Linked DNA regions of Homo sapiens: region 1 is linked to region 2. The links come from fine-mapping of genetic effects on gene expression. A gene starts in region 2. The other region holds a variant in brackets. All regions are shown on one strand. Distances are between the middles of the regions. Region 1 overlaps LOC105372859 (a long non-coding RNA gene). Region 2 holds the start of HIRA (histone cell cycle regulator).

Region 1 (2,906 bases), 110 kb before region 2:
TTTAACACAATTACTATCAAAATCCAAGCAACTTTGTTGTTGTTGTTGTAGATGCAGACAAACTTATACTAAAATTTGTTTGGAAACATACAAGCCCTAGAATAGCTAAAAAGTTTTGAAACAGTTCTGAGGTGGGAATTAAAGAAAGAAAGAAAAATAAAATTAAAAAGAGAAAAATATGTTCAAAAAAACAAGCTTTCTGTATTAGGCTGGCTCATCCCAAAGTCAGTAACAGGCAAAGCCCAGACCCAGGCAAAGTCTCGATAACATTATCTAAGAAGCCAGGGCTCAAAGGAATGTGCTCTGGAGACTCTCCCAGCACTCCCTCCACATAAGGAGAAGAAAAACAAATTTTCCTTATTTTCCTTTCCCCTATGGTATGAGTACATTTATGACTTTATAGATTCCCGTTTTCTTTTCTTTTGTTTTCTTTTTCTTTTTTTTTGAGATGAAGTCTCGCTCTGTCACCCAGGCTGGAGTGCAGTGGTGCAATCTCAGCTCACTGCAAGCTCCGCCTCCTGAGTTCACGCCATTCTCCTGCCTCAGCCTCCTGACTAGCTGGGACTATAGGCGCCCGCCACCATGCCTGGCTAATTTTTTGTATTTTTAGTAGAGACGGGGTTTCACCTTGTTAGCCAGGATGGTCTCGATCTCGTGACCTTGTGATCCACCTGCCTCAGCCTCCCAAGGTGCTGGGATTACAGGCGTGAGCCACTGCGCCTGGCCAGATTCCTGTTTTCTGTAACTAGTAACCTCAAGTATTCTGTTTTTTATCCGAGCAGCACAGCAAAGGTCATGAGACATGCCTGAGCAGGCATAATCTAACTGTCATAGTTTGATTAACTGCCTTTGTTCTGCTTCTATACACTTGCTTTCACACCACTACACTTCGCATCACTGTAACCTTGTTTCAAACTAGCCAACCCCTTTTCAGAAGTGTGTATAAAAGTCAAGTTCTGTCTTTGTTCTAGGCCCGGTCTTTGGATGTTAATCCACTAGGCCAGAGTGCACTCAATAACATCCCCCTGTTCTACCTATTGGTCTCTCCAGTCTCCTGATTCCCACAACAGTTCCACTGGATCTTTCACTGTCTTTGTAGTTTTACCTTTTATAGAATGTCACTTAGGTGGGGCGTGGTGGCTCATGCCTGTAATTACAGCATTTTGGGAGGCTGAGGCGGGTGGATCATTTGAGGTCAGGAGTTCGAGACCATCCTGGCCAACACGGTGAAACCCCGTCTCTACTAAAAATACAAAAATTAGCCAGGTGTGGTGGTATGCATCTGTAATCCCAGCTATTCAGGAGGCTGAGGCAGGAGAATTGCTTGAGCCTGGGAGGTGGAGGTTGCGATAAGCAGAGATCATGCCACTGCACTCCAGTCTGGGTGACAGAGTGAGACCCTGTCTCAAAAAAAAAAAACAAAAAACAACAAATTGTCACTTAGTTGGAATCATACAGTATGTAGCCTTTTCAAATTGGCTTCTTTCACTTAGCAATATCCATCTAAGGTCTTCCATGTCTTTTCATGGCTTGGTAGCTCATTTCTTTTCTTTTCTTTTTTATTTTTCTTTGAGATGGAGTCTCGGTCTGTCGCCCAGGCTGGAGTGTAGTGGCACGATCTCAGCTCACTGCAACCTCAACCTCCTGGGTTCAGGCAATTCTCTTACCTCAGCCTCGCAAGTAGCTGGGATTACAGGCACGCACCACCACACCCAGCTGATTTTTGTATTTTTAGTAGAGAAGGGGTTTCACCATGTTGGCCAGGCTGGTCTTGAATTCCTGA[C/T]CTCAGGTGATCTGCCTGTCTTGACCTCCCACAGTGCTGGGATTACAGGCATGAGCCACCGTGCCCGGCCTGAGCCACTGCCCCCAGCCGGCTCATTTCTTATCATTGAATAATATTCCAATGTATGAATGTGTCAGTTTGTTCATTCACCAATTGAGGGGATATCTTGATTTCTTCCAGTTTTTGCAGTTTTGAATAAAGCTGCTATAAACATTCATGTGTAGGTTTTTATGTGTATATAAGTTTTCAACTAATTTTGGTATATACCTAGGAGTGAAATTGCTGGGCCATATGGTTAGGCTATGTTTAGCTTGGAAGGCACTACTAGATCATCTTCCAAAGTGGCTGTATTCTCAAGAGCAATGAATGAGAATTCCTGTTTTTCTATGTCCACATCCTTGTCAGCATTTGATACTGTCAGGTTTTTGGATTTTAGCCTATCTAATAGGTGTATAGTGGTTTCTCATTGTTGTTTTTGTTATTTATTTATTTATGTATTTATTTTAGAGATGGGTTCTTACTCTCTTGCCCAGGCTGGAGTACAGTGGTATGATCATGGCTCACTGCAGCCTCAAACTGCTGGGTTCAAGAGGTCCTCCTGTTTCTGCCTCCTAAGTAGCTGGACTACAGGCATATGCCACCATGCCCAGCTAATTCTCATTGTGTTCTGAATTTGTAATTCCCTAATGACATATGATGTAGAGCGTCTTTTCATATGGTTATAGCCATATGTATATCTTCTTTGGTGAGCTCCGTTCAGATATTTTGTCCATTTTTAAACTGGAATGCTTATTTTCTTATTTTTGCATTTTGGGAGTTATTCGTATATATTGGATACAAATCCTTTATCAGAAAAGTTATTTGCAAATATTTTCTCCAAGTCTGTGGGTTTTCATTCTCTTAGCAATGATGTTCTCAGAGCAGCAGTTAAAAATTTCTGTCTAGATTCTTTTTTTTATGTTTGCATGTGTAAAATGCAAAACTTCCTGAGTAGAAGGGACTACAGGTGCATTTATTAGAGCAGTATTTATTGAAAAGACTAATATTTTTCTATTGAATTGCCTTTGTTCCTTCATCAAAGATCAGTTGATTTCATTTGTTTGGGTTTATTTATGGGTTCTCT
Region 2 (2,834 bases):
TTTTTCATCTACCCGGGGAGCAAACACCAACTCCTGCAGCAGTTCTGCCAACAAGGCAGAACTATGACGAAACTGATTACCACTAGCCTCTCTGTATCAGAGTCAAGATATGGGGTGGATGAGTCCGTTCCCCAAGGGTGTGCTTTGGAGCCACTGCCACAGAGCTAAGAAGCCCCTCTGCTAGAACACACCTGTGCCCTATCTGCCCAACCCTAGTTCACCCTGATGTCCCAGCTCAGCATTAATCGTGGATCCTTCGCGGGGGCCCGGGGCCCCCAAACCCTCCTATTTAGGGACCACAATTCCCCAACTGGGGGCACTGTCCCCAGATCCAGAGGGGCAGTAACAGTCCCTCTTGCAGATTTCGGATCTTCATCCTGCCACTGAAAGGCCACAAGGGGGATTTCATCCCGGTTTCACCTTCAGGACCGTCTGAGCACTTCTCGGGCGATGCAGACCAGTGGAAGGCACTGGCTGGCACCAAGGCCCGCTCCTGGGAGCCAGGCCGCGGCCCCTCCAAGGACCACAGGTGGGCAGCGGAAGACTCAGAGCAAGAGCCAGGGGCGAAGATGGCCCTCGCTGCGGTCAACCCGGAGCACGTGCTGGGGCTCACCAGCCTCTCCGCGCTGAGGACAAAGTCCGCTCCCGCCGGCTTCTTGGCTTGGGCACCGGGTACCGGGCGTCAGGGGCGAGACAGGCAGGACTTGCGCGCGCCCCGACTCGACTCCAGACCCCGACCCGACTCCGGGCTCGGCCTCCCGCGACCCCTGCGCGCACTCACCATTGTGGTTGACCCAGGTCGGCTTCAGGAGCTTCATTGTTCGGCCGCCGCCGCCGCCGGGCTGAGGCGAGCGCCGGGTCCCTCAGCGCGCCCGGGCCATGGAGCCACCGCCGCCGCTTCCTCCCGCGCCACCCGCCCTCCGGCCGCCGCCCGCCCCGCGCCCTCAGGGCCGCCGCGCCATCGCCGGCCCGCGCCCCCCTCCGCCGCCACAGCCGCCACCCGCGCTCGGCCGCCGCCGCCGCCACCACAGCCGCATCCCCTGCGCCGCTCCTCCTCAGGCGGCTCCCGGGCAACGCCGGAAGTCACGGCGCGCACCTGCCAAATCGCCCCGGCGGGAAACCGCTCCCCACGCGGACTGGGCCGCCCCGGCTCCTCCGCTGGCAGGGGCTTCGGGTCGGGCCCGGGCGCGGGCGCCCCAGAAAGGGCGGTTCGCCTGGACGGCGGACAGCGAGCGGGGCCTGCAGTTGCAACCCGGGCCGCCCGCAGAGGCAGGCGGGGCCCAGGTGGCGTGGACCGCCCGTCACCAGCTCTGCCTCGCCAGTCTGAGTCCGACTTATTAACTAGCTTCCGTCATTCATCAACACGCGCTATTGGGCATCTTGCGAGCGCCGGGCTCCGCGCCGGCGCCGGAATGCGATCCGGGCTTCGGACTCGAACGAATGCGGGGGACGAGCCAACCCTGGTGGGGGAGGCTGGGGCGGACGCGTTTATTAGAAGATCGGGGCCGTTTGCCTAGACATGAACATTTGGACTCGGAGGAGCAGAGGGACGCCCCCTCGGCCGCTCCGGCTGCACTGCGGAGCCGAGGCCCGCGCGAGGGCGCAGACCGACCAACCGGCTAGGGCCTGACTGGCTAGACTGTGCCCGCTGCAGAGGCGCGCTCCCAGCACAGGGCGGGGACGGAAGGGAGGACCCCGAGCCGCGTGAAACGCAAGGCCCTCGTGTGTGCGCAGCTGACACCCTAGGCGGGGCTGCGTCGGGGGCGGGGACAGGCGCGTCCCAGCCCACGCAGCCGGAACGCCTGAGCGCTGGGCGCCTGGTCTGCCGGACCTCAGCAGGGGGCACCGCGGGCCGGACTGTGGAGGGGCGCACGCCCGGAAGCGGCGAGGGTAGCCATGACGGCCTCCGTGCTGCGAAGTATCTCGCTAGCCCTGCGCCCGACTAGCGGGTGAGTGCGGACGCTGGCCGGATAGCGGAGTGCCCAGGGCGCGTGCGGGGTCTTCGCGACTGTCCGCCAGGACTCGCCTGTGCTCCCTGCTCGCCTCCCAGTCCACGAATATCTCAGGGATGAGCCATCTGGTCGTGACTCTTATGCATGAAAATCTGAGCACCCTGGCGAGCAGCGGTCCTGCTTAAGTCCTCTGTGGTCTGAACGAAAGATTTTGAAAAACCTTCCACGTTGACCTTGCTGTCATATCAAGTAGTTAGAAGTGCCCCGGGTTTGGGAGCATTGCAATTTTTTATTTTCCTGTGAAGTGGGAGAGAATCAGATATTTATTTATTTATTTGAGACAGAGTCTCGCTCTGTCGCCCAGGCTGGAGTGCAGTGGCGCGATTTCGGCTCACTGCAACCTCTGCCTCCCGGGTTCAAGCAGTTCTGCCCCGGCCTCCCGAGTAGCTCGGATTACAGGCGCCCAACACCACGCCCGGCTAATTTTTGTATTTTTAGTAGAGACGGGGTTTCACCATGTTGGCCAGGCTGGTCTTGAACTCCTGACCTCGCGATCCACCCGCCTCGGCCTCCCAAAGTGCTGGGATTACAGACGTGAGCAACCGCGCCTAGCCTGGAGAAGCAGATATTTATACATACTCTTGTATCTTTCAGGCTTCTGGGAACTTGGCAGACGCAGCTTAGAGAGACTCACCAGCGAGCGTCATTGTTGTCTTTCTGGGAACTCATTCCCATGAGGTAAAACTCAATCGAGGGCCTGACCTCTGGGGGTAAAGGTGTCAGTCTATGTGTAGAGAACAAAGCAAGAATGCTGGATGTGTGGTTTGCAAAATTAACAGCCTACAAAGTTTCTCAGTTAAATTTAGGCCGATGCTTTTCTGT

Evidence for each region.
Region 1: its variant is fine-mapped to the expression of HIRA in whole blood (TOPMed, PIP above 0.99).

What each region holds. Positions count from the first base shown.
Region 1 is chr22:19,315,895-19,318,800 of GRCh38, forward strand. All of the region lies in intron 1 of LOC105372859 (a long non-coding RNA gene), which reads left to right. Among named protein-coding and RNA genes, the nearest start is that of CLTCL1, 26 kb to the left of the region's middle. The variant C/T (reference allele first, on the strand shown) is at 1,784.
Region 2 is chr22:19,430,659-19,433,492 of GRCh38, forward strand. It overlaps HIRA (histone cell cycle regulator), which reads right to left and starts at 1,075. Exons shown (of 25, transcript NM_003325.4): 1 at 782-1,075. The coding sequence starts at 818. It overlaps MRPL40 (mitochondrial ribosomal protein L40), which reads left to right and starts at 1,887. Exons shown (of 4, transcript NM_003776.4): 1 at 1,887-1,949; 2 at 2,607-2,690. The coding sequence starts at 1,897. RefSeq lists an enhancer at 1-677 and silencers at 962-1,361, 1,652-1,961.